Regions from separate parts of the Homo sapiens genome. Here region 1 is linked to region 2. The links come from fine-mapping of genetic effects on gene expression. A gene starts in region 2. The other region holds a variant in brackets. All regions are shown on one strand. Distances are between the middles of the regions. Region 1 has its middle 8.2 kb from the start of SDR9C7. Region 2 holds the start of TAC3 (tachykinin precursor 3).

What was found. PIP is the estimated chance that this variant, and not a neighbour inherited with it, causes the effect.
Region 1: its variant is fine-mapped to the expression of TAC3 in whole blood (INTERVAL, PIP 0.92).

Annotation. Positions count from the first base shown.
Region 1 is chr12:56,934,931-56,950,250 of GRCh38, reverse strand. It overlaps the pseudogene LOC100420982. Among named protein-coding and RNA genes, the nearest start is that of SDR9C7, 8.2 kb to the right of the region's middle. The variant AAAG/G (reference allele first, on the strand shown) is at 6,297.
Region 2 is chr12:57,009,325-57,024,644 of GRCh38, reverse strand. It overlaps TAC3 (tachykinin precursor 3), which reads left to right and starts at 8,116. Exons shown (of 7, transcript NM_013251.4): 1 at 8,116-8,258; 2 at 8,843-8,961; 3 at 10,974-11,067; 4 at 11,257-11,286; 5 at 11,770-11,823; 6 at 12,193-12,267; 7 at 14,357-14,645. The coding sequence starts at 8,848. The coding sequence ends at 12,266.

The sequences.
Region 1 (15,320 bases), 74 kb after region 2:
AGATTGAGGTCAGATGTTGCAGGGCCACTGAATTTAAAACACGCAATGAGGCATGGTGACTCATGCCCGTAATCCTAGCACTTTGGTAGGCTGAGGTGGGTTGATTACCTGAGCTCAGGAGTTAGGGACCAGCCTGGGCAATATGGTGAAACCCGGTCTCTATTAAAAATACAAAAAATTAGCTGGGTGTGTTGGTGTATGCCTGTGTTACAGCTACTTGGGAGGCTGAGGTAAGTGGATCACTTGAGCCTGGGAGACGAAGGTTGCAGTGAGCTGAGATTGTGCAACTGCACTCCAACCTGGGTGATAGAGTGAGACCCCCATCTCAAAAAAAAAAAAACAAAATAAAACAAACAAGCAAATGAAACACACACAGTGAGGAGCAGGTGGAGATAAATGGCAGAGTAGAAGGCTTCACGGATCATTCTCTCTTCCCCACCCCACACCAAGACACCAAGTTAACAATTGTCTCCGTATCAAAAAACACCTTCATAAGAACCAATAATCAGGTGATGATAACTCTTTAACCTGGTTTTAACCTCATATTGCTGAAAGAGGCACTGAAGAGATAGAAAAAAACAGTCGTGAATCACAGACCCTACCGCTCTCCAAACCCTGGCAGTGGAGGCACAGTGCTGAGAGCATCTCTGGGTGCTGCGGGAGGGAGAACACAGCAATTGTGAGGCACTGAACTCAGTGCTATCCTGTTAGAGCAGGAAGAAAAACCAGACCAAAGTCAGCTGATGCCCATCCATGGAGGGAGCATTTAAACCAGCCCTAGCTACAGGGGAATCACCGATCCCAGCAGTCCTGAGTGCCCACAAACCTCGATACCAAGGGCTACAATGCTCCATGTCTCCAAATAAACTTACATGGCAGTCTAGGCCATAAGAACTGCAACTCATAGGTGAGGCCTAGTGCCACAGGGGAGTCTCTGATCACAGCAAACCTAACTTGAGTGCCCGCAAACCTCGCCACCAAGGGCTACAATGCTCTGTGTCTCCAAGTAAACTTGAAAGGCAGTCTAGGCCATAAGGACTGCCCCTCATAGGCTAGGGGTAGTGCAGAACTAGGCCCAGAGGCACTGGATTAGGGGGACACATGACATATTGAGACGCAAGCTGGGGCAGCAAAGGGGAATGTTTGTATCACCCCTCCCCTAACCCCAGGCTGCACAGCTTGATGTTCCAAAGGAGACCCCTTTCTTCCACTTGAGGAGAGGAGAGAGAAGAAGAGTGGGGAGGATTTTATCATGCATCTTGGATACCAGCTCAGCCACAGCAAGATAGGGCAATGATCAGAGTCAGGAGGCCCTCATTTCAATCCCTAGCTCCCATATGACATTTCTAGACAGACCCTGGGCCAGAAGGCAACCCAGTGCTTTCAAAGAAAGGACCCAGTGCTGGCAGCATTCATCACCTTCTATCTGAGGAGACCTTGGGCCCCAAATAACCAGCACTGATGGGCAGTTACTACACTGAGGACCTTGGGTGAGCCTCTGAGACTTGCTGGCTTCAGGTGAGACTCAGGACATTCCCAGCTGTGGTGGCTATGGAGAGAGACACCTTCTGTTTGAGAAAAGTGGAAGGAAAAGTAAAGGAGACTTTGTCTTGCACCTTAGGTGCCAGCATGGCCACAGTGGAGTGGAGCACCAAGCAGACTATTGTGGTTTGTGATTCCAGGACTTGACTCTTGGATGGCACTTTCTGGACCCACCCTGGGCCAATGGGGAGCCCACTGACATGAATGGTGTGTCCCAGGCCAGGCAGCATTCACCACAAGCTGACTTAAGAGATCTTGGGCTTTAAGGGAATATTGATGGGAGTCTAGCGGTACTCCATGTGGCTTGGGGTGGTGGTGACTATGAGGTCAGGCTCCTCTGTCTTTGGACAAGGAAGAGAAAAGCAGGAAGGATTTGTTGTGTGGAGTGAGTGCCAGCTCAGCTGCAATCCAACAGGACACCAGGTACATTTCTAAGGTTTTTGACTCTAGTCCTTGATTCCTGCACAGCACTTCTGGAACCACACGGAGACTGGGGGACATCACTGCTCTGACAGAAGGACACAGGCCTAACTAGCTTTGTTATCTGCTGATTGTAGAGCCCTTGGGCTTGAGCAAACATAGGCAGTAGCCAGGGCCTTACAACAGGCCTTGAGTGAGACCCAGCACTGTGGTGGCTTCACGTCTGACCCAATGCAGTCATAGTGGTGGTGACACAGGGGTGCTTGTGTCACTCCACCCCCAGCTTTAGCTATCTCAGAACAAACACACACAGAGTTACTCTGTATGTATGGGAGAAAGTAAGGGAAGAGAACAAGAGTCTCTGCCTGATAATCCAGAGAATTCTCTCAGATCTTGTCCCAAACATCAGGGTGGTACATCTACGAGGTTCTGCAAGAACCATAGAATTACTGGGTGTGGGGTGCCCCCTAGAGCAGATACGGATTAGATCACAACACTGAAGTCTTTCCAAATATTTGGTAAGTCTTACAAGAAGGATGACTACAAATAAGCCCAGACAGTGAAGACTACAATAAATACATAACTCTTCAATGCCCAGATACCAAAGAACATCTACTAGCATCAAAACCATGCAGGAAAACACGGCCATGCCAAATGAACTAAATAAGGGACCAGGGACCAATCCTGGAGAAACAGATATGGGGCCTTTCAAACAGAAAATTTAAAATAGCTGTGTTGAGGAAACTCAAGGAAATTCAAGGTAATATAGAGAAGAAATTTAGAATTCTATCAGAAAATTTTAACAAAGAGTTTGAAATAATTAAAAAGAATCATACAGAAATTCTGGAGCTGAAAAATGCAATTGGCATATTCAAGAATGCATCAGAGTCCCTTAACAGCAGAATTGATAAAGCAGAAGAAAGAATTAGTGAACCTGAAGACAGGCCAGTTGAAAACACATAGAGGAGATAAAAGAAAAAATAATAAAAAGCAATGAAGCATGCCTTCAGGATCTAGAAAACAGACTTAAAAGGGCGATTCTAAGAGTTATGGGCCTTAATGAGGAGGTAGAGAAAGAGAATATGGGGTAGAAAGTTTATTCAAAGGGATAATAACAGAGGACTTCCCAAACCTAGAGAAAGATATCAGTATGGAAGTACAGGAAGGTAATAGAACACCAAGCAGATTTAACCCAAAGATAGTAATCAAACTCCCAAAGGCCAAGGGTAGAGAAAGGACCCTAAAAGCAGCAAGAGGAAAGAAATGAATAACATACAATGGAGCTCCAACACATCTGGCACCAGATTTTCAGTGGAAACCTTACAGGCCAGGAGAGAGTGGCATAATATATTTAAAGTGCTAAAGAAAAAATCTTTTAGCCTATAATAGTATAATAGTATATGTGGTGAAAATGTCCTTCAAGCGTAAAGGAGAAAGAAAGACATTCCTGGACAAACAAAAGCTTGTACCATTGTACAAGAAGTGCTAAAGGGAGTACTTTAGTAAGAAAGAAAAGGACATTAATGAGCAATACATAGTACCTGAAGGTACAAACCTCACCGGTAGTAGCAAGTACCCAGAAAAACACAGAATATTATGACATTGTAACTGTGGTGTGTAAACTACTCTTATGCTAAGTAGAAAGATTAAATGATGAACTAATCAAAAAAAGTAACTGAAACAACTTTTCAAGACATAGTCAGTACAATAAGCTATAAACAGAAACAACAAAAAGTTAAAAAGTTGGGGAACAAAGTTAAGGTGTAGAGTTTTTATTAATTTTCTTTGAGCTTGTTTGTTTATGCAAATAATGTTAAGTTGTTATCAGGTTAAAATAATGGGTTATAAGATAGTATTTGCAAGCCTCATGGTAATCTCAAGCCAAAAAACATACGATGGATGCACAAAAAATAAAAAGCAAGAAACTAAATCATATCTCCAGAGAAGAACATCTTCACTAGAAAAAAACAAGAAGGAAAGAAAGAAGGAAAGGAAGTTCATAAAACAACCAGAAAACAAATAACAAAATGGTAGGAGTAAGTCCTTACCCATCAATAATAACATTGAATGTAAGTATCCTAGACTGACCAATCAAAAGACATAGACTGGCTGAATGGATGAAAAACCAAGACCCATTGATCTGTTGCCTGCAGAAGAAACACTTCACCTATGAAGACAAACATAGACTGAAAATAAAGGGATGGAAAAAGATATTTCTTGCCAATGGAAACCAAAAAGAGCAGGAGTTTTATCTCAGATAAAATAGATTTCAAAGAAGGTCACTATATAATGGTAAAGGGGTCAATTCAGCAAGAGGATAAAAGAATAATTTTAAATATGTAATATATGCACCCAACACAGAAGCACCCAGATAGATAAAGGGAATACTATTAGAGTTAAAGAGAGAAATAGGTCCCAATGCAATAATAGCTGGAGACTCCAACACTCCACTTTCAGCATTGGACAGATCTTCCAGACAGAAGAATCAACAGGGAAACATCAGAATGAATCTGCACTGTAGACCAAATGGATCCAATAGATATTTACAGAACATCTCTTCCAATGGCTGCAGAATACACATTCTTTTCCTCAGCACATGGATCATTCTCAAAGATAGACCCCATGTTAGATCACAAAAGAAGTCTTAAAACATTGAAAAAAATGAAATAATATCAAACATCTTCTCTGACCACAATAGAATGAAACTGGAAATAAGAATAATAATTTTGGAAACTACACAAATACATAGAAATTTTAAAATATGCTCCTGAGAGACCAGTGTGGGTCAATGAAGAAATTAAGAAGAAAATTGAAAAATTTCTAAAAACAAATGATAATAGAAACCCAGCATACCAAAACCTATGTGATACAACAAAAGCAGAACTAAGAGGGAAATTTATCGCTATAAGTGCCTACATCAAGAAAAAAAAAGGAAAACTTCAAATGAATAATCTAACAATGTATCTTAAAGAACTAGAAAAGCAAGAGCAAACCAAACTCAAAATTAGTCGAAGAAAAGAAATAATAAAGATCAGAGCAGAAACAAATGAAATTGAAATAAAAAAAAACTTAACATAAGATCAATGAAACAAAAAGTTGCAATTTTAAAGTTAAACAAAATTGACAAATCTTTAATCAGACTAAGCAAAAATACAAAAAAAATAGAAGAAGATCCAAATAAATAAAGTCAGAAATGGAAAAGGAGACATTACAACTGGTACTGCAGAAATTCAAAGGATCACTAGTGGCTACTAGGAGCAATTATATGCAAATAAATTGGAAAATCTAGAATAAATAGACAAATGCCTAGATGCATACAACCTACTGAGATTGAGCCAGAAAGCAATTTAAAACCTTATTATTTAAAACCAATAACAAGTAATGAGATTGAAGCTGCAATAAAATGTCTGCCAGTAAAGAAAAGCCTGGGACCTGATGGCCTCACTGCTGAATTCTACCAAACATTTCAAGAATAACTAACACCAATCATACTCAAACTATTCCAAAAAATAGATGAGGAGGGAATACTTTCAAACTCATTCTATGTGGCCAGCATTACACTGATACCAAAACCAGACAAAGTCACATCAGAAAAAGACTATGGGCCAATATCTCTTATAAATTTTGATGCAAAAATTCTCAACAAAATACTAGCAAACCAAATTCAACAATACATTAGAAAGATAGTTCATCATGATGAATAGGATTTATCCCTTGCATGAAAGGATAATTCAACATACCAAATCAATCAATATAATATATCATATCAACAGAATGAAGCATAAAAGCCACATGATCATTTCAATCAATATTGAAAAGCATTTGATACAATTCAACATCTAGTCATGATAAAAACCCTCAAAAAACTGGGGATAGAAGGAACACACTAATCTCAAGATAATAAAAGCCATATACAACAGGCCAACAGCTAGTATCATACTGAATGGGGAAAAACTGAAAGCCTTTCTTCTAAGATCTGGAACATGACAAGGATGGCCACCATCACTACTATTATTCAACATTGTACTGGAAGTCCTAGCTAAAGCAATTAGACAAGAATAAGATATAAAGGGCATCCAAATTAAAAAGGAAGAAGGCAAATTATTTTTGTTTGTAGACGATATCATCGTATATTTGGAAAACCCTAAAGACTCCACAAGGAAACTATAAGAACTTATAAACAAATTCAGTAAAGTTGTAAGATGCAAAATCAGCATAAAAAATCAGTAGCATTTCTATATGCCAACAACGAACAACATGAAAAAGAAATTTAAAAAGTAATCCCATTTACAATAGCCACAAATAAAACTGAATACGTATGAATTAACTTAATC[AAAG/G]AAGTGAAAGATCTCTATAATGAAAACTATAAAACACTGAGGAGAAACATTGAAGAGGACACCAAAAACTGGAAAAATAGCCATGTTCATGGATTGGAAGAATCAACACAATATTATTAAAATGGCCATACTACCCAAAACAATGTACAGATTCAATGAAATCATTATCAAAATACCAACGACATTTTTTACAGACATAGAAAAGTAATCTAGGCTGGTGTTGATTGTCTGGCTTTTCCAGGTGCACACTGCAAGCTCTCAGTGGATCTACCATTCTGGGGTCTGGAGGATGGTGGCCCTCTTCTCACAGCTCTGCTAAGCAGTGCCCCAGCACCCCACATTTCCCTTCCACACTGTCCTAGCAGAGGTTCTCCATGAGAGACCTGCCCCTGCAGCAAACTTCTGCCTGGACATCCAGGCATTTGCATACATGCTGTGAAATCTAGGCAAAGGTACCCAAACCCCAATTCTTGACTTCTGTGCACTGGCAGGCTCAACACCATGTGGAAGCTGCCAAGGCTTGAGGCTTGCACCCTCTGAAGCCACAGCCTGAGCTCTACATTGGCCCCTTTCAGCTGTGGCTGCAGCAGCTGGGATACAGGGCACCAAGTCCCTAGGCTGCATACAGCACGGGGACCCTGGGCCTGGCCCATGAGACCACTTTTTCCTCCTAGGCCTCCTGGCCTATGATGGGAGAGGCTTCCGTGAAGACCTCTGACATGCCCTGGAGACATTTTCCCCATTGTCTTGGGGATTAACATTTGGCTTCTTCTTCCTTAGGCAAATTTCTGTAGCCAGCTTGGATTTCTCCTCAGAAAATGAGATTTTCTTTTCTATTGCATTGTCAGGCTGCAAATTTTGTGAACTTTTATGATCTTTTTCTCTTTTAAAACTGAATGCCTTAACAGCACCCAAATCACCTCTTGAATGCTTTGCTGCTTAGAAATTTCTTCTGCCAGATACCCTAAATCATCTCTCTCAAGTTCAGAGTTCCACAGATCTCTAGGGCAGGGGCAAAATACTGCCAGTCTCTCTGCTAAAATGTAATGAATCACCTTTGCTCCAGTTCCCAACAAGTTCCTCATCTCCATCTGAGAGAACCTCAGCCTGGATTTCATTGTCAATGTCATTATCAGCATTTTGGTCAAAGCCATTCAACAAGTCTCTAGAAAGTTCCAAATTTTCCCACATTTTCCTGTCTTCTTCTGAGCCCTCCAAACTGTTCCAACCTTTGCCTGTTACCCAGTTCCAAAGTAGCTTCCACATTTTGGGTGGCCTTAGAGAGCAGTGGCAGGAAGAGGCAGGTGCCTTCCTGGAGGCCAGGGATGAGAGGCATGACCTGAGAATGGATTTGAAGAGGAAAGTTATCCCTGCCTTCTCCCAGCCATTCTTGCCACCGAGATGAGGAGGAATTGTTTTCTTTCCATGGATGCTGGAGTAACCTCAGGTCACAGAAATAGACCTAAGGACGAGCCAGCAAGGAGATGTCAATAGGCACTGACAGGCCCCAGGTCCCTTCCCTGGGACAACTGAGTCCTCTCCCCCTCACCTGTGCCTTCTGTGGCCCTCAGTGACTGACCCTCACTTAAAAGTCATTGCACTTTTCCTGTGCCATCTCTCAGGTCCTCCACCATATCCCAACACACCCCCTCCTCCAGTGGCAGGGAAAGGAATGGAGACTTGGAACCCACAGGAAGGAAACACCCAGGGCTGCTGGGAGGGGGAATGGAAGGACTTCCACAGTGCCCCCATGGGATCCTTCACTCCTTCTGCCCCAAAAAACTATTATAGCAGGAGACGATCTGTTCCTGTCCACTCTTTCGGCTTCTCCTTCTCATCCTAGACAGCCTGACCATGACCCAGTTTTCTGAGGAGTGATTGATTCTGGGTGCTGAGCGGGATGAGGAATCTCAGGCTCAGAGAGGGATTTCCACCTAATGTGGCTGGAAACCATATGTAGCTTCCCAATAAGGTCTTTCTGTGCTCAGAAGGTCATGGACCAGAAGTGTCAGTACAGCAGCTTTGTAGAGACAGTTCTGACCCTTGTACTTAGAGCAGAGGGGTGTGTTTGCTATGGAGAGTGTGTGGGGGCTGCTGTGTGTAAGCCTGTGTCAATACACGTTTGCACCCACATAAACATCTGTGTGGGCACAGCAATGCAGAGAGAAATTTGTGGACTAGGGAAGCATTGCTGAGTCATAGTAGTTTCCTACTGGGCAGGACTTGGGGTTTGCAACTGCATGCATGAGTACTTGCAAAGGCAGTTCAAAATAGTAGAGAGATGAAGCCAGGATAAAAAAAAATGTTGCAGAAAGACAGTGATCAGGGAGGAAAGTGAAGACTTTCTGCCAAAATGCCTGAGGGCTTCTCTGCCTACCTCAGCCCTCTGTGTTCTTAAATCCTCCTGTCTGAACAGAGGCCAGACTCTCATTTCACCCCAGCCTACCTGGGTCTGTCCTCTGCAAAGCCATGTGGCTCTACCTGGTGGTCCTCCAGGGCCTGTACTACCTTCTGTGCTCATACTGGGAGAGGCAGGTGGTGAGCCAGCTGAGAGACACATAGTGTTCATCATGAGCTGTGACTCACGCTTCAGGAAGCTACTGGCCAGACAACTGAATGCACAGGCTTGCGGGAGCTGCATGTAGGACAGAGAAGGGGACCAAGCAGCTGAGGGGCCAGACTTCAGACAGGCTGGAGACGGTGACCATGGACATCACCAAGACAGAGAGCATTGCTGCAGCTGCCCAGTGGGTGAAGGAGTGTGTGGGGGACAGAGGGACCACCTCAATCCCTCCTAGTGCCTGTTTGTTTCTCTTCTCTCTGTGTCACTAGGGGAGACCTAGTGTCTGCTAACTGGGAACATTTCCAGGACTTTTATTTTCGGGGGCTTGAGCTTTCTGCTTTCCAAAGCAGAAGTCCTAGAGTGGTTGTGGCTGGGCCCAGGGTTAGAGGAGTCCAGGCTGTGGTTAGAGCCCAGTCTCTGGATAACGTTGGGTCCTGACGGTTGGCATGAGACCATCGGGGATGGGGCTGGGCAGGATCCAGGCTTCTGATCTCAGCATTCTCTTACTGGTTCCTTCACACTTGTCCCTGTTGAGGGCTTTAAGATGATCTCCGCTTGATTCACGAGGACACTGGGGCTTGGAGAGCTGAAGGGACTTCACATCAAACACCGAGTGATGAATCCTGTTCCTTTTGGGGAAAGGGAGATCATTGATTGCTTTGTTCTGATTGTAAATGGAAAACATGAAGAAATTATAGAAGAGGATAAGATTGGATAGATAGGAGGATAAGATAGGATTTCTCATTGGAGAAATCATAGAAGAGGATGAGAGTGAAACAACATTCCCCCTAATCCCAGCCTCCAGGGTTAATTTCCCTCTACTTTACACATTCTGGGGTCAGCATTTTCATCATCAAGTTTCTTCCCCAACATAACAATCAAGGTCTCCATATTCCAGCATGTGGAGAGGCCATAATTTGTTAAAGGGATTCTATATTGTTGAATGCCGAAGTTTGTTACCCACTTTTCCTGGCATAAATAACATCTCAGTAGCGATTCTCTACCAAGGTTTGTTGACAGGCTTAGCAGTGCTATTCAAGAAAAGTACAACTATTGAATCAAAGAATCCTCATTCCTTCAAGTCCAGGAAAGGTTTCTGAGTAGGGGAAGGGCCACCATTGCAGGCCTTATTGTTTTTCCAATATTCCTAGGGTCAGTCTCCGTCTCCTGTACCCCCCAGCCCTCACCCACTCACACCCCTGCCCCTGCTGGCCTGGAGTCCGTAGTTCTGTAGCTCTGACTGCTCCAGATCTTTCATGCTATTAGTTTGCTCCCCTATGTCTTCTGTAGAGTCTTCCCCAAAGCTTGCTGGACCCTATGGGGATAGGGCAGAGGTGGCCTTATGAGATGGTGGGAGGAAAAGGTGGTACTTCCTGGGGCAGAGAGTGCAGTCTGGACACCTGTGTGGCATGAGACCTCTTTCCTTCCTCCCCTCCTGCTCTGGCCATTCAGTCCACAGTGAGCTTTGGGACTCCCAGGTACACAAGGTGACCTTTTCTTCCAGGACAGATATTGCCTTGACATTGATGCAGGTTGTAGCACAGCTTGTCCCCTGATGCCCAGTGCAGGCCTGCTCTCTAACTTCCCCCAGTCTTAGGATTTAAGTGTATCTCTCTTAACCAGGATGCAGAAAGCAATTATTTATGTGTTTTTCTTATTCTTTCCTTCCATTTTCCTTTCTCTTCTGTCCTTTCCCCTTGGTTTCTCTGTCTTACCCCATTCCTGTCTTCCTGTTTTCCTGTCTCTGTCTCTCTCCCTTGGAGAGATATTTGTTGGGTCCTGGAGGCATGGGGAGAGCATCTGAGTCCATACAATATACTCTTGTGGCCCTTGGAAGAGTACCCAATAAACTCAGCCTAGGACAACAACAGGGTTTTGGCCCTGACCTAAAAGCTCTGACACCTGAGAGAGGAGCAAGAGAGCCAGAACCATTGTTGCCAGTTCTCATAGGGGTTGTGACCCAGTCAGCCCTGGTGGCCATGGCAGCCTCCTAAGCTGGGGAGGGTCCTGGCAGTGGGATCTGAGCTGGAGATTGAGGATCCCCACCTGGCAGCCTTGAACAGAAATGGGGGAATGACTTTTGTCTTCAGCCCAGACCTAGGGGGAGCCTCAGCTGCCTGCCTGTGCTGTGGGGTCCTCATGAGGTGAAGCACAGGGCCAGGCCTGTGGAGGAGGCTGGGCAGGTGGGTTCATATGGGCTCGTGGAGGCCCTGGACAGGAGCTGTGCCTCATGCTGTTGGCAGTGGAACCCCCAAAGAAGGGATTTGCTCAGGGGAGCTCTTTGGTCTAATCGGCTTCTAGACACCCACTTACTGCAGGGAGCCCAGTGGCTGTGAGTGTGGGGAGCCAGACTGAAGGCAGAGGGACGCTCCTTAGAGGACAGCTGCCATCACCCAGCTCAGAGGCCAGGGAGATTCCTGGGGCAGGAGAAGAAGGGAGGGGACTGAGGACTGCAGAGGAGGTAGAATGTGGGAATTCTGGTGATCCATTGGATGTGAGGGGCATAGGAGGTGATAGCACTGAGATGCTGCCTTGCTCTTGAATTGGTAGGACTTAGGGCTAGTAAGCTTTGGTATGTAAAATATGGAAACCCCAGAGAGAGGCAAGGCCACCATCATAACTTTTATCTGCTATCTGCTGCCCTTCCCAACTCTCCAAGCTTTCTTGCATCTCCCACTGTCGTTGCATGCTGGGTTTGTATTGGGTTTCTTTGTTTTTTGTATTTTGCCTCCCAAAATTTCTTAAGTCCTTGCCCTTCTGCATGTCTGCCATGCAGGAGGGAGCTCTCCCACTTTGGAGTGAAGGTGTCTGTGATTGAACCTGGTCACTTCAGGACCAGTATGGCCGGCTCTGAGAGGCATTTACAGAACCTCAAGGAGCTGTCGGACTAGGCCAGCCCCGAGGTCAAGGAGACGTATGGGGAGAAGTTTCTGATATCCCGTGAGTGAGCTGTGGACAGTGGGGAGATAAAGAAATCCTTGTCTAGAAGTCTGGGTCCATCATTAGTGCCTCCAACAGTATGAGAATCTGTCCTCCAAACTCTGCCTCCCCAAAAAAGTGAGGACATTTATCCCCATTCCCAGGGTGCCATGTGGTCAACTGTTCACCTAAAGGAAGCATCCAAGCTTTCTATAATTGGGACCACTGCCTCATCTGAATCCCTCATTATTTTGAAGAGGAAACTAAAGTCAGAGACAGTGGCTACCAGTGGGCTCATGGGCAGCTGGGTTTAGAGATAGCTGATTTTCATATTCTTAGGCTGTTAGTAGAGACCTTCCATTTATGAGTCCAGATATCTCAAAAAGAGAGGCAGAGGGGGCTTAGAGTGAAACGGATGTTCCTTGGGTGAAGGTTGGGGCACTCTCTGGGGAATATGGATGGATTAGACTTGAGGCATATCATTTGGGGGGCCTGGAATTCTTAGACACTGTCCTCCTAATTCAGAGCTCTAAATGGGAGGGAAGGGATGTGCTAGTACTTTAAGGATCTTTCCTCATCCTTAACATGCATCAGAAAAGCATCTAGAAGGCTTTGGGCAAAATGCAGTACGAATCTATCCTTGTTGACCCACTGCATGGAGCGCTCACTACTCAGCTGGCTGAGACACCAATCTTCTCTACCTCCCCATGAGCGACATGCCTACCTTCCTATGGACGTCACGCTCAACTGGGGCTCTCCAAGGCTGGCTAAGCCCCTGTGAATCCAAGACTGGGGTGCATGGTTGGGTGGAGCTGGGTGATCTGGGTGAGGTGATGTGTCTTGGGGAGAGTAATGGTGTGGTGGGAGGGAGCACTCTTGCCATTTGGATGCCTATCCCAGCTTCTTCCTCATGCCCTCCACAGAATTCCACTGAGATATCACTCAGGACTGGCAACATAGGAGGAAAGAACCAAGGTGTTCTTCTAAAGATTGGGACCCAGTAACGCTCATAGGTGTCCTGTTGCCTTTGAGTCTCTTGGCCAATTCTGAGGAGTCTACACAATGGGAGCGTGTGAGGAGGGGAAGGATCCACAGCCCACACCTTCTCTGCCTCCTGCTTCTTCCCCAGGTGTGCATCAACCTGGCCAGTCTATTACACTCTCTCCATGATGGAAATGGCCTGGAGGAAGTGGATGGGGGCTCCTCTGAATATACCTGTGGATAAGGTGTGGGGCGACAGGGCAGCCATCAGCCTGACCCCTAGACCTCAGGTGCCAGCTCTGGGGGCATTGGCTGGCAGTGGTGTTCTCGATAGGGATTCTGACAGAGGACACAGGAACCAATGTTTGACCCTCTTAAAACCATTGGCTGGCAGTGGTGTTCTCAATAGGGATTCGGACAGAGGACACAGGAACCAATGTTTGACCCTCTTGAAACCATGACCCTCAAAAAACCATCTGGTTACTTTAGTTCTAGAGCAAAAGCTAAAAAGTGCAGCCATGTGCAGCAAGTTGCCTTCTAGTCTGAGGGGAGCATGGGCTGTGAACAAGAGGGAGGAGGAGGCAGGTGCCTTCATGGGGATCTGGGGATAAGAGGGATGAACTCAGGAGGAAATTGAAGAGAGAAGTTGGATTATCCCTGCCCTGTCTCAGCCCTTTCTGCCACCAAGGTGAGGGGCAATTGTTTCCTTTCCAGGAGTGAATCAAGTAGCCTGGGGTCACAGGAGTGCACAGAGGGACAAGGAAGCAATGACATGTCACAAAGGCACTGGCAGGCCTCTTTGTAGCACTTTGTAGCGACCTCTTTGTAGCACTCAGTGACCGGCCCTCACTTTAACATCATTGCACTTGGGAGGGGTGCTGTTTCATGGGGTGAGAAATAGAGTGGTGGGAGGGAGCTCTCAAGTTCAGGGTCATGTACCTCACTTCCCTCACCTCTGTTCTAGTTTTTTTCTGGGACGTTATTCAGGACTCTGGTGATATTAGGAGGAAAGAACCACATTTTGCTGCTTAGGAAGGGAGACCCAATCACAGATAATGGCATCCCACTTCCTTGGGCTCTGAGCTTCATGGCCCACCTGTCAACCTGAAGAATCCACACTTGTGGAAGGTCTTGAGCAACTGGGGGTGGGTGAGCCCACACCTGCTCTTCCTCCTGTCTACCTCATCAGGGTGTGTCTTGGACCTCAGCAGTCTATGCTCTCCCACTGGAGGGAAATGGCCTGGCAGAGGAGAGGGCTCCTCTCCTCTGAGATACCTGTGTGCATGGGGTGGGGATGGGGAGTGCAGCTACCAACCTGACCTATCAGACCTTAGGGGCCAGCTTGGCAAGGAATGCTGTCATCTGAGAGAGGGAGGCATTTCTAGCCCTGGGAAGAAGAGCCTTCTATGTGGTCCTACCTCCCTCACACCCCCCACCCTCATGGACTGTGTGTTTAGTTTGAGGCCAGGGGAACACTGCCAGCATAGAGGCCCAGGAGGTGCTGAGTCAGGCCCAGGCCTGTGCTGGGGCAGTTCTGAGTTATCCTTATGCTAAGTCAGACCCAACTCCTGGACCTCACCTGTGTCCTCAAGGACTGGGATACCCAATGCCCCGGACCTGCTCAGTCTTGAGTGACATGGTCTGACCTGTTTCAGCCAAGACTTCTCTGTTCATTCACCCAGGAGGCAGACAGAGACTGGGAGATTGTTCCCAGATCCCGCATAGGAGGTGCTCTGCCTCAGGTTGGTTATGAAGTAGGTGTGGTTTGCTTTCTACCATTTCCCACCTCCATCCCCTATAAGCTTTAGGTCTGCTCTTTGGGGGTGGGTTCATAATCTGGCCCCCTCCCCTACTTTGTTAAGGAACGGCCAAACCCTGCGGGGCTTTCCCAGGGTGACACCTGCTTTATGTGATTCCACGCTGGTCAGACTTGGCAAATGGTGGATCACAGAGATACATCCTTTGTCCCTTCACACTAGAGAACTTTGTGGTCCCATTTCTGTGTCAGACTCGCTAAGCCATGAAGGTGTGAGCTAGGACCAGGCTCATCCCAAGGAATGGTGACCCTAGATGTTGATCCAAAGAACCACAGAGGCTCCAGCATCATTCCCTGCATCTTATGCAATTCTGGGTGTGGCCCCTCACTACTCACACCTCTGGTTTCCTTATTTCCTTTCCTTTACCACCTTACCTCTTAGCTTTCTGTAAATTATTTGCTAAATTGCCTAGAATCTCTGTTTCTCCTCCAAGTCCCGACCCTGAGAATTTTCTATGTCTCTGGCCCCAGTTCTCTGCTCCTCCTATATCTCATCCCCTCTTACAGTCAAGGCCTCTGCCCAGACAATTCCCTCAGCTGCCCAGTGAACTCATGATCCCTCCTCATCATCTTGCCCAGGGCTGCTTACTGGTGACCTGAGTATGACCCCCACAGGGTGTCAGGCCTGAGTCCCCCAGGTCTTTCTGCTTTCTGGTGGCTAAGCTTCACATGCCAGCCTCCCCTATAGGAGGGCCCTGCTGCCTCTAGCCTCAGGACAATGGAGGTACATCCACCCTAGGAG
Region 2 (15,320 bases):
CTGGGTGGGAGTGGTGATAGAAAGACAATAAGTAAAATACTTAGCATAGTGGATGTAATAAGTTCATGAAGGGAAAAATGGGAGTGAGGTATATGGAATTTTGGGGTGGTGATAATTTTAAATAGGGTGATTGGGGAATGCTTTGTTGCACAGATTGTTTTTGTAGTAAATATGAGATAAAGATACGGTTCTCTCCCAAACTCAAAATGTAGAAGAGTAGAAGGTCCCAAATCTTCAAGTCTCTTGGAGAGGGGGGCCACCCATTCCGTCTGGGACAGTTAACTGTTCCCTCACAGGTCAAAGTTTATGCCAGTGCAGTAAAAAGAGTGGGAGACCTGGGGTGAGACAAACCTGGATTTGAGGCTGTTCTTCACTGATTAGTAGCCATATGTACTGGAGCAAGTGACTGAACCTTCTGAGCCTGTTTTCTCATCTGGAAAATCAGAATATTTCCTACTTACATGGTCATGGTGATGAAAACCAGATGGACTGCTCCATGCCAAAGCACCCTGCAAACATTCAAACCCTGCACCCATTACAAATACTGGGCTGACGGATGGCTCTGGCTTTGCTTTTGCATCTCCGCTGTCTCATTCAGCAGCAGCATCTGGCTCTGGCTCTCGGCTCTGATCCTGGTTCTGACTCTCCCCTGGAGCTCTCTCCCTTGGGTGAGAAATAAGCAGATAATCTCCCTCATCTGTGTGTGGTGTGAACAAGAGGCTTGAAAGGTCAGAGAAGAAGATGCCTGAACTGCAGGGAGACAGATTAGAGTGGGGAAAATGTAACTCTGAGGAAAAAGGGAAGCAATTAAGAGATCAAGGCCAGGGGCAGTGGCTCATGCCTGTAATCCCAACACTTTGGGAGGCTGAGGCGGGCAGACCATGAGGTCAGGAGTTCGAGACCAGTCTGGCCAACATAGTGAAACCCCGTCTCTACTAAAAATACAAAAAAATTAGCCAGGTATGGTGGTGTGCACCTGTAATCCCAGCTACTTGGGAGGCTGAGGCAGAAGAATTGCATGAACCCGGGAGGCAGAGGTTGCGGTGAGCCGAGATTGAACCATTGCACTCCAACCTGGGCAACAGTGTGAGACTCTGTCTCCAAAAAAAAAAAAAAAAAAAAAAATCAAGGCCGGGGAGGGGGCAGGGGTGGCACAGCTATCGAGTTCTGTTCATCCTCTGTGAGATTACATCAGGAGGTGTAAAAGAACTCTAGAAGAATGAAGCTAAGTCCAGCTGATTCAGGGTTCAAGAAGGATTGAGGTGGGAGAGGCATCATGACCACTGGTGAGGAGTGGAGGAAGGCCGACACTGGAGCTTTCTTTGCCCAAGCAGAGGAGGGGTGTGACACTCTTGAGGACCAATGTAATGGCGCAGCTCCCTCTGGGAGGGGGAAAGGAGAGGACTGGAGGGGATGCTAAACTGACCTTCTAACCTTCAGGGGCCTGAGTCTGGTTGTCCTGGGTGGGGAGGGGCGCCTGCCTGAAACTGTTTTAGCCCAGAAGTCAGGCCTGAAGGTTAAAGGGCAAGGAGCTGGTGGATGAACAAGGTGGGGAAAGAGGCCCAGGGTCCACATCTACTGAGCTGGACTCAGGCATGGGAATTGGTGTTGTGAGGGCCAAGACACTTGGCCTCCTAAAAGTTTGCTGAAAATCACTGACATGAGAGTAATTGATTTATAGGAGAAAAGGTAGATAAATTTATTTAATATGTATATATGAGCACCTTTAGAATGAAGACCCAAAGATATAGGGGAAATTGCCAGTTATTTATTTATTTTTTTTGGAGATGGAGTCTCACTGTGTCTGCCAGGCTAGAGTGCAGTGGCATGATCTCGGCTCACTGCAACCTCCGCCTGCTGGGTTCAAGCAATTCTCCTGCCTCATCCTCCTGAGCAGCTGTGACTACAGGCACGCACCACCATGCCCGGCTAATTTTTTGTATTTTTTAGTAGAGACAGGGTTTCACCATGCTGGCCAGGCTGGTCTGGAACTCCTGACCTTGTGATCCGCCCGCCTTGGCCTCCCAGAGTGCTGGGATTATAGGCATGAGCCACCGCCCCCAGCCTGAAATCGCCAATTTTATGTTTATGTTTTACAAAGTATGGACAGCTGTGTAGAAATATGACTGGACAGAAGGGCATGCTCTAATGTTAACAGACTGAGTGGGGAAACCCAGGAAGGCCTGTTGAGATTCCTCCTGGCCTCTCTCATTCCTTCCTTCTGGGTATGGGGCAGGACCCTCTCTGGAATGGGGAGATCTTAGGACCTAAGTTAAATAAGGTAGGTCAGATAATTTTTTATGGCCAGTTTTTACATACAGTAATTTTAGGTTTTATGGCTGGCTTTGGGGAAAAGAGGTCCTGGTTTTTATAGCTGGCCTTGGGGGAGAATGGGACCCAGCAACAGGAGGACAGGAGAGGGTCAGAGAAAAACTTCTGCTTCTGAGGCTGCTACTGAGGCCTTCATTTTAGGGTATTGTCTTCTGAGCCCCAGCATTCCTCGGTGTGAAAAATTTTAAAGAAATTTTATAGTCCAGAAATTGAGTTGGTGAATTGTCTTATAAGCCATGGAACTAGTCTCTTAGTCCTGAGAATAGGCCAGTCTAGTTAAATAGTTATTAGTTGTGTCTAATTTTAGGCAGTGTGTTGCAGATGGGCTTCCACCAAAGCCAGGCCTCTATATGATATGAGTAATCAGTTATTTAGTAAGAGGCATTTTTGTCTCAAAAAATAAATAAATAAAAATATATGAATAAATGAATGTATGTTTCTTATCAGACTACGTCTGTTCTATCATTAATTCCAGAAGGGAGGAGGGTCTGGTTCCCCCTTCCCATCATGGCCTGACCTAGTTTTCAGGTTAATTTTAGAACACCCTTGGCTGTGAGGAGTGGTCCATTCGGATGGTTAGGGAGCTTTAGGATTTTACTTTTGGTTTACAAAGTAATGTGAATTAAACAGACATTTGAGTTAAAGTTTTTATTTTTTAATAAAATATTTGATTTAAGCATTTTTTTAACTGAATTAATTAGAGCTCTTTTATATATTTTGATAATGGAACATTACATACACAGGCACATATAAATATATAGACACATAAACAGAAGTAGAGCTTATAGATTTATACTTTTTTTTTTTTTTTTTTTTTTAATGAGACAGGTTCTCCTTCTGTCATCTAGGCTGGAGTGCAGTGGTGCCATCACAGCTCACTGCAGCCTTGACCTCCAAGGCTCAAGCAATCCTTCTACCTGACTGGCTAGCTGGGACTACAGGCGCGTGCCACCATGCCTGGCTAATTCGTGTATTTTTTGTAGATATGGGGAGTTTTACCATCTTGCCCAGGCTGGTCTTGAACTCCTGGGCTCAAGAAATTTTCCTAACTTGACCTCCCAAAGTGTTGGAATTACAGGCATGAGGCACTACGCCAGACCAGATTTTTTATTTGTCAGTTTCTAGGTAGTTTTCCCCAACTTCAGACTATCAATTTTTAAATTATCTGTTTTATGTCTTAATTATTAACTAGGCAACTCTAAACTTGTATCTCTAAGACATGACTTTTAGATGAAATAAGGTAGAAAATGTATATTTCAAAGGCATAGAATTTAGATCTAAATAAAGGTAAAGTTATCTAAATTTTAAGCCATTGTCTTTTCTATTCTAAAAGGTTTTGGAGGTTTGGGTGTAGAGAGGGAGATGCCTTTACAAATGGAATTTTTGTTGTTGTTTTTGTTTTGAGACGGAGTCTTGCTCTGTCACCCAGAGTCTCGCTCTGTCGCCCAGGCTGGAGTGCAGTGGCACGATCTCCGCTCACTGCAACCTCTGCCTCCCGGCTTCAAGTGATTCTCCCACCTCAACCTCCTGAGTAGTGGGGATTACAGCTGTGTGCCACCACGCCCAGCTAATTTTTGTATTTTTAGTAGAGACCGAGTTTCACCATGCTGGCCAGGCTGATCTCGAACTCCCAACCTCAGGTGATCCGCTCGCCTTGGCCTCCCAAAGTGCTGGGATAACAGGCATGAGCCACTGCACCTGGCCTTTTCTGAGTTTTTTAAGGAGTCTGAGTCATTAGAAGTCTTTTCTAGATTTTTTAAAAATGTGGTATTGAAGATGGCAAAGAGGAAGGAGGAATAGGGTGGAGTAAAAGTAAATGGGAGGATAGTTTTTAAGAAAGGAAGTGAATAGAGACATCAAACACATTTTAAAAAAAAGATTTTAGTCTACTGAACAAAATTTTTTAAAATAGGATTTAAAGAGAAAACACAGAAGGCTTTAAAAATATACACATAGCTTGAATATTAGCTTTTAATTAAGCTGACTTCTAACCATGGAGCTCTTTAACAAAAATTCTTTTAAATTTGTCTCTCTCCTCCTTTAAAACTTTTTGTAGAGATGGGGTTTCGCCCTGTTACCCAGGCTGGTCTCAAGTCCGGGCAACTTCTGGGCTAAAGTGATCTGCCTGTCTCGGCCTCCCAAGTGATAGGATTACAGGTGTGAGCCACTGCGACTCACCTTAAATCTCTTGTTACCAGATTTTAGTTGGGACAAATGCTGATATTTTAAAAGTCACATAAATATTAAGCCGAAAAGGACTGATTTCTGATTAGGAAGGAAACCCTAAGCCACGGTGGGAATTTTAATTATTAAACTGTAAAATGGAGCAGCCTCCATTGTTAATTTTGTATGGAATCCAAAGTGGCAGTTTGAGTGTAATTGTTTTAGGTCAGGTTTTTGTGCTTTAATTTAATCAAGACAATTGTTAAGGATAGCTGTGACACTATTATGTGTCCTTTTAATTTGATCTATCAATTCTTTAGAACAAGTAATTTTTTTAAATTTAGGAATTTTAGTCTAAAGGATTTATCTTTTGGCCATTGACAATTAGAATTTTTAATGGGGTATTTAATTCCAATAGCAACTTAATCCAAAGTTTTCTTTATGTCAAAGAAAACAGAAGCCCAGGAGGGATGAGACCTTGTAAGACAAAACTCCCCTAGGAGCTTGGAATGTTTGAAAATACATGTGTTGGGCTCCCAATCTTTTCATACTGGCTGTGATGTTACCTGAAAAATCACATCCTTTGGATGGTGGAGACCAAGCGGGAATATCCCCATCTAGTCACGTCATGCTCTCAAGGACATGAGACAAGAGGGAAACCTCTCACCCTGTTTTTATTTCAGGGACTGGCAGCAAAGTTTGTCATAACAGAAGTCAGCATAACCAGAACCACGAAACTGACCAGTTTGCAGGGCCAGTTCAAACAGTGGGTTGCAGGCCTGTTCTACCCTAGGGTACCCCTCCTTATGACAGAACACCAAAAGACAAGACAAAAACGAAGGAAAACGGCAACAACAAAAAAGCTATTTCTGAAAGGAAAATGGCAACAACAACAACAAAAGCTATTTCTGAAGGGAATGGGGTCAAACTATGAATACTTATACCACAAAGTACTAAAAAATATATCAGACTCACTATACCAAGGTTAGTCACACACAAAACCTGTTCTCTCATTAATCTTACATTTGGAAAGGAAAAGGGAAACAATGATTTTTACTGTCCACTCATCCAGAGTCCACAGAGAGAGGAAAACTGGAAAACTGGGAGTCTGGCAGGAAATTCTCACTCCTCTGCTGGCTTGCCAGGTTCCTGTATTTCCTTCTCTGTGGCTTCCAGAAAAGCACAATAGCTTTGGTGGTCTTATTTGTGATGCCAAACTGTGGTCTTGGCCCCCTAAAGTTTCAGTGAAAATCACTGACATGAAGCAGATTAATAGGGAAAAAGGCATACAAATTTATTAAATACGAATGGGAGCCTTTAGAATGAAGCCTTGAAGCTATAGGGGAAATTGTCTATTTTTATGTTTAGGTTTAACAAAGTATGGACAGCTGTGTAGAAATATGACTGGACAGAAAGGGCACGATCTAATGTTAACAGACTGAGTGGGGAAACCCAGCAAGGCCTGTCTGTTGAGATTCCTCCTAGCCTCTCTCATTCCTTCCTTCTGGTGTGGGGCAGGACCCTCTCTGGAATGGAGGTTTTATGACCTAAGTCAAATAACGTAGGTCAGATTTTTTTTTTTTTTTTTTTTTTTTTTTTTGAGCTGGAGTCTCTCTGTCAACAGGCTGGAGTGCAGTGGCGTGACCTTGGCTCACTGAAACCTCCGCCCCCTGGGTTCAAGCCATTCTCCTGCCTTAGCCTCCTGAGTAGCTGGGATTACAGGGGTGTGCCACCACGCCCAGCTAATTTTTGTATTTTTAGTACAGACAGGGTTTCACCTTGTTGGTCAGGCTGGTCTCAAATTCCTGACCTTGTGATCCACCTGCCTCGGCCTCCCAAAGTGCTAGGATTACAGGCGTGAGCCACTGTGCCCGGCCTTTTTTTTTTTTTTTTTTTTTTAGGAAGTTGTATTTTGGGCTTTTTAACTAGCTTGTTTTTTAATTAGATTATTGCCTTTAGGGTGGAGCCCTTTAATAAAAAGGGGGAAGAAAACATAGGTTTTAGGGCCTCATATTTAAATGGGTAAAGCAGGCATAGCTGGAAGGCAGAATACAGAACCCCCCTAATCAAGGATCTCATTTTTATATTGAATCCTAGGCCCCCCAAAAGAGGGAAATGTCATGGGACGAGATGTGTGGCATTTTTATCGAGTGCCCCACTGTAAAGATGCTCCCCCAAGGCTGGCAGGCAGCCCAGTGCCGATTAGCCCACTCTGTGCTTAGTCTTTTTTTTTTTTTTTTTTTTGAGGTGGAGTCTTGCTCTGTTGCCCAGGCTGGAGTGCAATGGCGTGATCTCGGCTCAATGCAATCTCTGTCTCGTGGGTTCAAGCGATTCTCCTGCCTCAGCCTCCCAAGTAGCTGAGATTACAGGCACCAGCCACTATGCTCAGCTAATTTTTTGTATTTTTAGTAGAGATGGGGTTTCAACATGTTGGCCAGGCTGGTCTCGAACTTCTGACCCCAAGTGATCCGCCCGCCTCGGCCTCCCAAAGTGCTGGGATTACAGGCGTGAGCCACCATGCCTGGCGTGCTTAGCCTATTTTTAATGGGAGTTTCATCCTCAATGGTGAGTGCTTTCATTGTCTTTAGGTGCCCCAGACCATGTTTTTAAAAATTTAAATGCACGAAGAAATAAGTAGCCCTGTATAGTAGTAATACTTTGTTGTGAATAACTGTCATAAGTCATCTCTAAAACTGTATTTTTTATCTAGTTATTATATATGACTAGCTATATGTCTAGTTTTTTAAATAATACAAAGTAATTTATTTTTGGCATCCTCAAAAACCAAAGAGATTAGGTAATGTAGTGTAGAAGAGAGCAGAGCTTTAGACCTGAGAAGAATCTGCCCATGACTCGTGAAACTCCACAACGAAAGTAGGAGACCCCAAAAAAGGGGTGAGTGTCATCTTTTCTGAATTTTTTTTTTTTTTTAGATGGAGTCTTGCTCTGCCACCAGGCTGGAGTGCAGTGGTGCAATCTCGGCTCAGCCTCCCGAGTAGCTAGGATTACAGGCACGCGCCACCATGACCAGCTAATTTTTGTATTTTTAGTAGAGACAGCGTTTCACCATGTTGGCCAGGATGGTCTCGATCTCTTGACCTCGTGATCCGCCCGCCTCGGCCTCCCAAAGTGCTGGGATTACAAGCGTGAGCCACTGCACTCGGCCGGTCAGATAATTTTTTTGGCCAGTTTTTACATAGAGTAATTTTAGGTTTTATGGCTGGCTTTGGGGCAAAGGGGTTCTGGTTTTTATAGCTGGTCTTGGGGGAGAATGGAACCGAGTGACAAGAGGACAAGAGAGGGTCAGAGAAAAACTTCTGCTTCTGAGGCGGCTATTGAGGCCTTCATTTTGGAGTATTGTCCTCTAAGCCCCAGCAGTGTCAAACTGTACACAAACCATACACAGCAGCCAGCTCGGGTGCTGTTAGGAAATGGTCTCACTGCTGGGTCTGTGGGGTATGTGTGTGTCTGGGTGTGTGGCTACTGTCTGCATCCTCCTCCCCCCTACAGCCTCCCCGCCTCCCCTCCAGCCACCCTGGGATTGGTGACTCTCAGCCCCTCCCCTCAGCTCCCCTAGACCCTCCCAGAGCCTTTATCAGGGAGCTGGGACTGAGTGACTGCAGCCTTCCTAGATCCCCTCCACTCGGTTTCTCTCTTTGCAGGAGCACCGGCAGCACCAGTGTGTGAGGGGAGCAGGCAGCGGTCCTAGCCAGTTCCTTGATCCTGCCAGACCACCCAGCCCCCGGCACAGAGCTGCTCCACAGGTAGGCAAGTGGGAGAATGCTGGATGGACCAGAGCTGGCACCAGGGGACAGGAGCCAGCGTCAGGAGGGAATAAAGCAGATGGCAGCCTCTGATAGGGGAGCAGGGGACTGGGAAGGTGAGCACAAAGCACCTGTAGGGCCGAGAGCTGGTTGGTGTTTGGAGCCTGTGGCTACAGACTCATTCTTTCATACCAGAAAGTTTTTGCCTAAGTCTTGGGATTATCTAGTACTGGAAAATAGCATCCAGGATCCCTCCTCCAGCTGACTGAGGAAACAGACCAGTCCATGTCCTACAAATCTATCATCTTTCTTGGGAGCTAGAGTCCTCCTGGCACCACTATAGCATTGCACATCTCCTGGGGAGATATCTGATGGGGTAGCAGGGAAACTAAGCCCAAGGGCTGTACCCCCTTCTCAGAAATACTTTCCACCCTCTCTCCAGACCAGGGCTTGGACAGTGGAGTTGGGGGCTGGGGAAGCAGGGTCAAGCCAAGCTGCTGGTAATGAATGTCTCTTGTGTCTTCACCCATGCTGTATCTTCCTCTTCTCTCCTTTACCTGAGTCCTGTCCCTTTGCTCTCCCAGGCACCATGAGGATCATGCTGCTATTCACAGCCATCCTGGCCTTCAGCCTAGCTCAGAGCTTTGGGGCTGTCTGTAAGGAGCCACAGGAGGAGGTGGTTCCTGGCGGGGGCCGCAGCAAGGTAAGTCTCCCCTGGCAGAGTACTGGGGACATCACGGGAACTTGGGACTCTGCCTGTCTGGACAGCTGTAGTGAGGAAACTGGGGTGGGGGGGTTGTCCGTCAGAGGGCATTTTGCCTCCCTTTGGATTTCTTTGTTTCTCTGGTCCTTTCATGTTCCCACTGTCTCCAGGTGTGTTTGTGTCTCTGTATCTCTGCATGTCTTTGACACCTTGTACATAAAAGGTGCCCTACAAATATGTTGTTTGGTGGGTTGATTGATGGGAGACTTGGTGATTGGATGGTACTGTGAGGGGTGAGCTAGGGTGGTCTAAGGCTCTCTATAGTCTACCTCAGGTCCCTTTGCAAGGGACAGATCTCTTCTATTTCCTGGATGGTATGAAACAGTCAGAATTTCTTTCCCAAATGGTTATTTGTGTGCTATTTTACCTATCAGTTATGTGTATTGTTTTATTTTCAAAATGCAAATAAATTCCCTTATCTTTTGCTCATCCACCCCCAGTAACCTCAGGTGCTTCTAAGATCCCAACCCCTTCCTTCTTCTCTTTTCTCCCTTGCCCGCCTCTATCCTCTGCTTAGTCAGGATAGGAAAACAACAACAGCAAAAAAACCAGATTGAGCCTCGATTTCCACAGTTCCTTTACGAAAAAGAATAGGAATTGTCAGGGTAGGGGTACAGGGGGAGGATAGGGAGGAAGTCTTTTCAAGGTTTTGAAATGACAGCAATTACATCGGTACAAATGCTTTTAAGATGATTGCGGGTGGGACTTATTACAAATTCAATGTGTGAAGTTTAACTGCCTCTTCAGCTCAAATCTGTTCAGCATCTCATTATAGGAGGTGGGCAGAGTATTCAACAATTTGGGAAAAGTGGCTGCCTGAACACCACATGCTGGGCCAAGGGAGTTATCACCAGGGCAGCCTTGCAGGTGGCAGCAGTTGTGCCATATCCAAAAGGCCAGAACCGTTAAAAAAAAAAACACCCAGGGGAGTGCCAAGTATGGGCTGGACACCGTTTGGAGCCACAAAGTTCCAGCCCAGGATAGTTAGAGTATCTGAGTTCTTCTGAGACAAACTTGTTTCAAGACCTTGGCCAATGAGATGTCCCCTCTGCCCCTCTTGGTCAATGAATGAGAGGGATTGCCATCCTACCCCTTCTCCTTGAGAGTCTGTGAGGATGAGGGAAATTGGGGCAGGAAGAGGGTAGTACATAGGTGTGCCTAGGCAACTGGGTTGGTATGTGTGGGGGTGTGTTCTGTGTAAATGCACTTCTGTGTGTGCACAACAGCCGAAGGATGCCTGGGTTCTGGAAAGAGAGGCGCTGCTGAGACTTGAGATTTGAGATGAAAATCTCCAGCCATGATCATTGTTATTGTCTCTCTGCAGCTGCAATTAACTGGCTGTGTGGTGTGTGCCCACCACCCTGCTGTACGCAAGTTGCTAAAAAAAAAAAAAAAATCACAGGGACAATCAAGAGCCCGTGCTGGGCAACAGCTCTAGAACTTGGGATTCAGTTGTGGAGAGAAGAAGACGTGCCTTCTGAGCATGTTGCCTTCCTGGAATTCTAGACCTAGGGCCAAAAGGGAGAGGGAGAGAAAACTAGAGGCGGAAAGCCATGGAGAATAGAGAAAGAGGTGGTGGAAAACAGGGAGAGAAACATCCATGGACATCGTGCAGAGTGGGGGAATCACAGGTGCAGATGTGTGCCTCCAATCTCACCATGCATGTGAATCACCTGGGGGGCTGCTTAAAATGCAGATTCTGTCTCAGGAGGTCTGGGGTAGGAACAAGAGTCTGCATTTCTAACAGGCTCTGTGTAGTGCTGGTGTTGCTGTTGGTCCACAGGTCACTCCTGGAGCACCTACTTCTCGTCCAGTGTGAACCAGAGGAAACTCTGAAAGAAATAGGGTGTCGGATTCAGGATGGGCTCAGGAAGAGGCTGTTTCTTGTGGGAAAAGGATGAGTGGATCCGGGTGGGAGCCTCCTGCCTCACCCCTCTTTGTTTCTTCCCTAGAGGGATCCAGATCTCTACCAGCTGCTCCAGAGACTCTTCAAAAGCCACTCATCTCTGGAGGGATTGCTCAAAGCCCTGAGCCAGGCTAGCACAGGTAGGAGGCGGCCCTAGGGGAGAGGGGAATGAGGGGCAGGATTCTGAAGATAAGAGGCCTGGGAGATCCTTTCAGATGGGAGAGAGATGGGGGATAGCTTAGTGAATCGGTGAGGGTTGTGATCTGAACCCCGCTCTCATCACTTTCCAACTTCACTCCCCATTTAGACATCTGTTCTTGGTTTCACAGATCCTAAGGAATCAACATCTCCCGAGAAACGTAAGTACCCTCTTCTCCCTCCCTATCTCTTGCCACTTGCCCAGAGCTCTGTGGGGCATTGGGCCCAGGGGCCATTTTGTCCAGCCCCTTCTCACCTGGTACAAACAATATGCCAGCTCCCACTGCTCAGCCAACCTTTCCTGAAAGGGAGAGGCCATCCAGAACTAGGAGGAAGCTGGTGTGAGGGGCATGGTGGGCTCTCCCTCTGCTGGCTGGTCCTTGGAAAACAAGGGGATCTCTTCGTGGCCCTGAAAATTCCAAATCAGGCACCTGCTAGAGCAGAAAATTCTTGAAATGTGGAGGAAGGAAAGGTGAGCAGAGAGAGTGGGTTTAGGGGAGGCACTTGCTAACTGTGAGGAGTCATGCTTTGACAAGAAAAAGGAACAGAGACCAGAAACCCAGTCTCAGAAGTGTTGACCCATGTCTGGGGAGATGCTTCACTTTCTCATCATCACTGCTGACAATGTTGGCCCTTTTCTGCAGGTGACATGCATGACTTCTTTGTGGGACTTATGGGCAAGAGGAGCGTCCAGCCAGGTAGGAGTGTGTGGAGGTACAGTGGAAGGGCTTAGGGTACTGGCAGAGTATGACAGAAGTCACGTGCCTCATATTTGTCACCAGAGGGAAAGACAGGACCTTTCTTACCTTCAGTGAGGGTTCCTCGGCCCCTTCATCCCAATCAGCTTGGATCCACAGGAAAGTCTTCCCTGGGAACAGAGGAGCAGAGACCTTTATAAGGTAGTCCTGTTGCAGCTGGGAGGAAGGATAGGGAGACTCTGCTTCCACCCCAGTCTCCCAACTCTGTCTTTGAACACTGCCCGTCATAGCCAGCCCTTTGCTGTTGGATCAGGGTGTAGTTCACATTCAGAAAGATCCCTCTTACTTACACTGTTCGCTTTACCCTAGACTCTCCTACGGATGTGAATCAAGAGAACGTCCCCAGCTTTGGCATCCTCAAGTATCCCCCGAGAGCAGAATAGGGTAAGGATTGTTCATTAGAGAGGGGAGAGGGGACTGGGGAGGGGGCTGTGGGGGTTGCCAGCTGTGCATTTCCTCCCATGCTACAGGTATTAAAGCTCATAGATTTGCCCTGAAATACACTGCCAATGCCCAGCACACTGTCGGCCAAACACAAAGACACTTAGAGGCACGTGTGTTTGTACACATCCCCCGTCTTTCATCTCTTTCCTCTGGATCATGGACGGCAGCTGACTATTGAGCAGGAGTGAGTGTTGGGAGATGAGGAGAGAGGGGCTTCCCCGATGGGCAATTTCTGTTGTTTGGACTTCATTCTTTTGTAATCTATGCAAAAAGATGGAGAAATTATTATCTGATAATTACAAATACCACAACCAATTCACAGGCAAGCATTTGCCTCCCAGGCAGGCTGAGCCTTTCAAATCACTCAGAATCCTGGGTTACGGGGCCCAGAAGGTAGTCATACACAAGGATGATTCAGGAAGAAATGCAAGGAACTCTGAAATCTAATGGGGATTAGCAGGAAACCATATCTGAATCTCTCTTTAGCATAATGAATAAGAACAATGGCCTGAATGTGAATCCTGGATCTGCCACTCTATCTGTATCTTTTTGGCCAAGGTACATATCCTCCTGTGCTTCAGTTTCCTCATCTGAAAAATGAAAGTGATAATAGTATCTCACAGGGTTGTGGTTTTGAGGATTGAGTATAGGTAAAGTGTTCAGAACAGTGCCGGGTGCACAGTGCTGTGTGCCAATTTTATGATAATTGTCCCAGTTTGGGAGGTATGGGGGATGTCCTAATGTTTCCCCTGACTGGCTCTGTCTGGACCCCAGGCCTGAGTGGGCTGACAAATTCCTCACTTGGTATGCGAGTGTAAGAGTCCCCCAGGGAAGTGTCTAGTCAAAACACGAACCTTCCGCCTTGACACTGTCTTCCCACACACAGCAAGAGCAGCTCCACCAATGGCTTTCTTTTCACTAGCTTCCAAAGAATTGGGGTGGAGGGAGTGAAAAGGAGAGGGAGAGAGATTGGGAAGGCTCGTAATCATGGAGAGCCTCCTGCTTTTCTCTCTGTGTCCCTGTTACCCATACTCACTGGTCTCAAGGTGGCACGCCCAAGACCCAAGGAGCTGGTGCTTGATGATGCTGCCTGTGCATGAATTCCTGGGACCAGAGACTGAGTCTGGCCCCCCATTTAGTGTTGGGTGAGAGGGCACAAAGAGCTATAATAACTGTAACTTGCTGATTACATGGTAGTTACTGTATCATTTTGCTCTCATTAGATGGTTATTTCAGTCCTGCCGACGGCCAGATAATTATACGAGCAGCTATATCTGGATGACATACTCTGCTCCAGCGTTATGCACTGGCCATAAAGATAATTACAGTGCAATTTTGCTATAGTATTTTATACAAATGGCAAAAACAAGTGCATTGTGGAAATCTACTTTTAATGCTTGTTTGTGCATCCAGGCTCTTTCAGAGGGACCCATAATTGCAGCTTTCATAATCTTACCATTGAGGGAGCATTCCCAACCTGTTAGGTGTCAGGCAGAATAGGACATAAGGTTTCTGGGAGCTGGCATTTAAAGATTAGATGAGATGGATCAACACAGATCATTGTGTCATCTGATTTCATTCATGTGAAACTGTAAGTAATCCCTGGGCCTGTGCTTCCTCTGGGAGGTTTCTGGGAAGAGGAGGAACTGGATAAGGCAGGGGGAGCATTCATAGTAGGGCACCTTGGGCAGGGCTGTGTGTGTGTCTGGCTCATGGTGGTGCTAGGATGGCATGAACTTGGTTCCTACATCTTTGGTCCACATGGGCCCCACTGGCCATGCACACAGGTGTGTAGAGTAATGTAAATATGGCAGCTGGGAAGGTGCAAGTACCTGCGGCTAGGAGAGTTCCATCCTCAGGCCCAAAGCCTGGAGGGCAGGCTGAGGGTCAAGACTTGTTCTTTCCTCTCTCACAGACGCCTCTCCCCTTCTCTCCTGCTGCCACAGCAGGTTTTCAGTGGGACTTTTTTACAGGATATAAGATGTGATTTCAGTGTTTTTTTTTGTTTTGTTTTGTTTTTTGTCCTCAGTACTCCACTTCCGGACTCCTGGACTGCATTAGGAAGACCTCTTTCCCTGTCCCAATCCCCAGGTGCGCACGCTCCTGTTACCCTTTCTCTTCCCTGTTCTTGTAACATTCTTGTGCTTTGACTCCTTCTCCATCTTTTCTACCTGACCCTGGTGTGGAAACTGCATAGTGAATATCCCCAACCCCAATGGGCATTGACTGTAGAATACCCTAGAGTTCCTGTAGTGTCCTACATTAAAAATATAATGTCTCTCTCTATTCCTCAACAATAAAGGATTTTTGCATATGAATGATGTGGTGTGTGTGTTTACTTGTTTGGTTGGTGGGTTTTTCTGTTCCTTGACTCCTCCAGCTACATGGTAAATACACACATACTTATGATACACACACTTCATATTTAAATGTAAATAACTTTACATATCTTTTTGTATATATCTATTTCCTGAACAGTGCCTTACACAGTGCTTTGCACGATGAGTATCAGATTTATTTAGTGATTAAAATAAATACACGAATTTGGAAGATGGTTTCTAACACACAAAGATTTTTACAGACCAGTTTTAGATAAAGAAAAAACAGGCCGGGCCCGGTGGCTCACGCCTGTAATCCCAGCACTTTGGGAGGCCGAGGCGGGTGGATCACGAGGTCAGGAGGTCGAGACCAGCCTGACCAACATGGTGAAACCCCTTCTCTACTAAAAATACAAAAATTAGCCAGGCATGGTGGCGCATGCCTGTAATTCCAGCTACTTGGGAGGCTGAGGCAGGAGAATCGTTTGAACCCAGGAGGCAGGGGTTGCAGTGAGCCGAGATCACGCCACTGCACTCCAGCCTGGGCAACAAGAGCAAAAAACTCCGTCTCAAAACAAAACAAACAAACAAAAAAAACAATAAAAAAAGAAAAAGAAAAAGAAAAAAAATATTCAGAATGACTTGTATTACTAGGATGGGTCTGGGAGATATTCA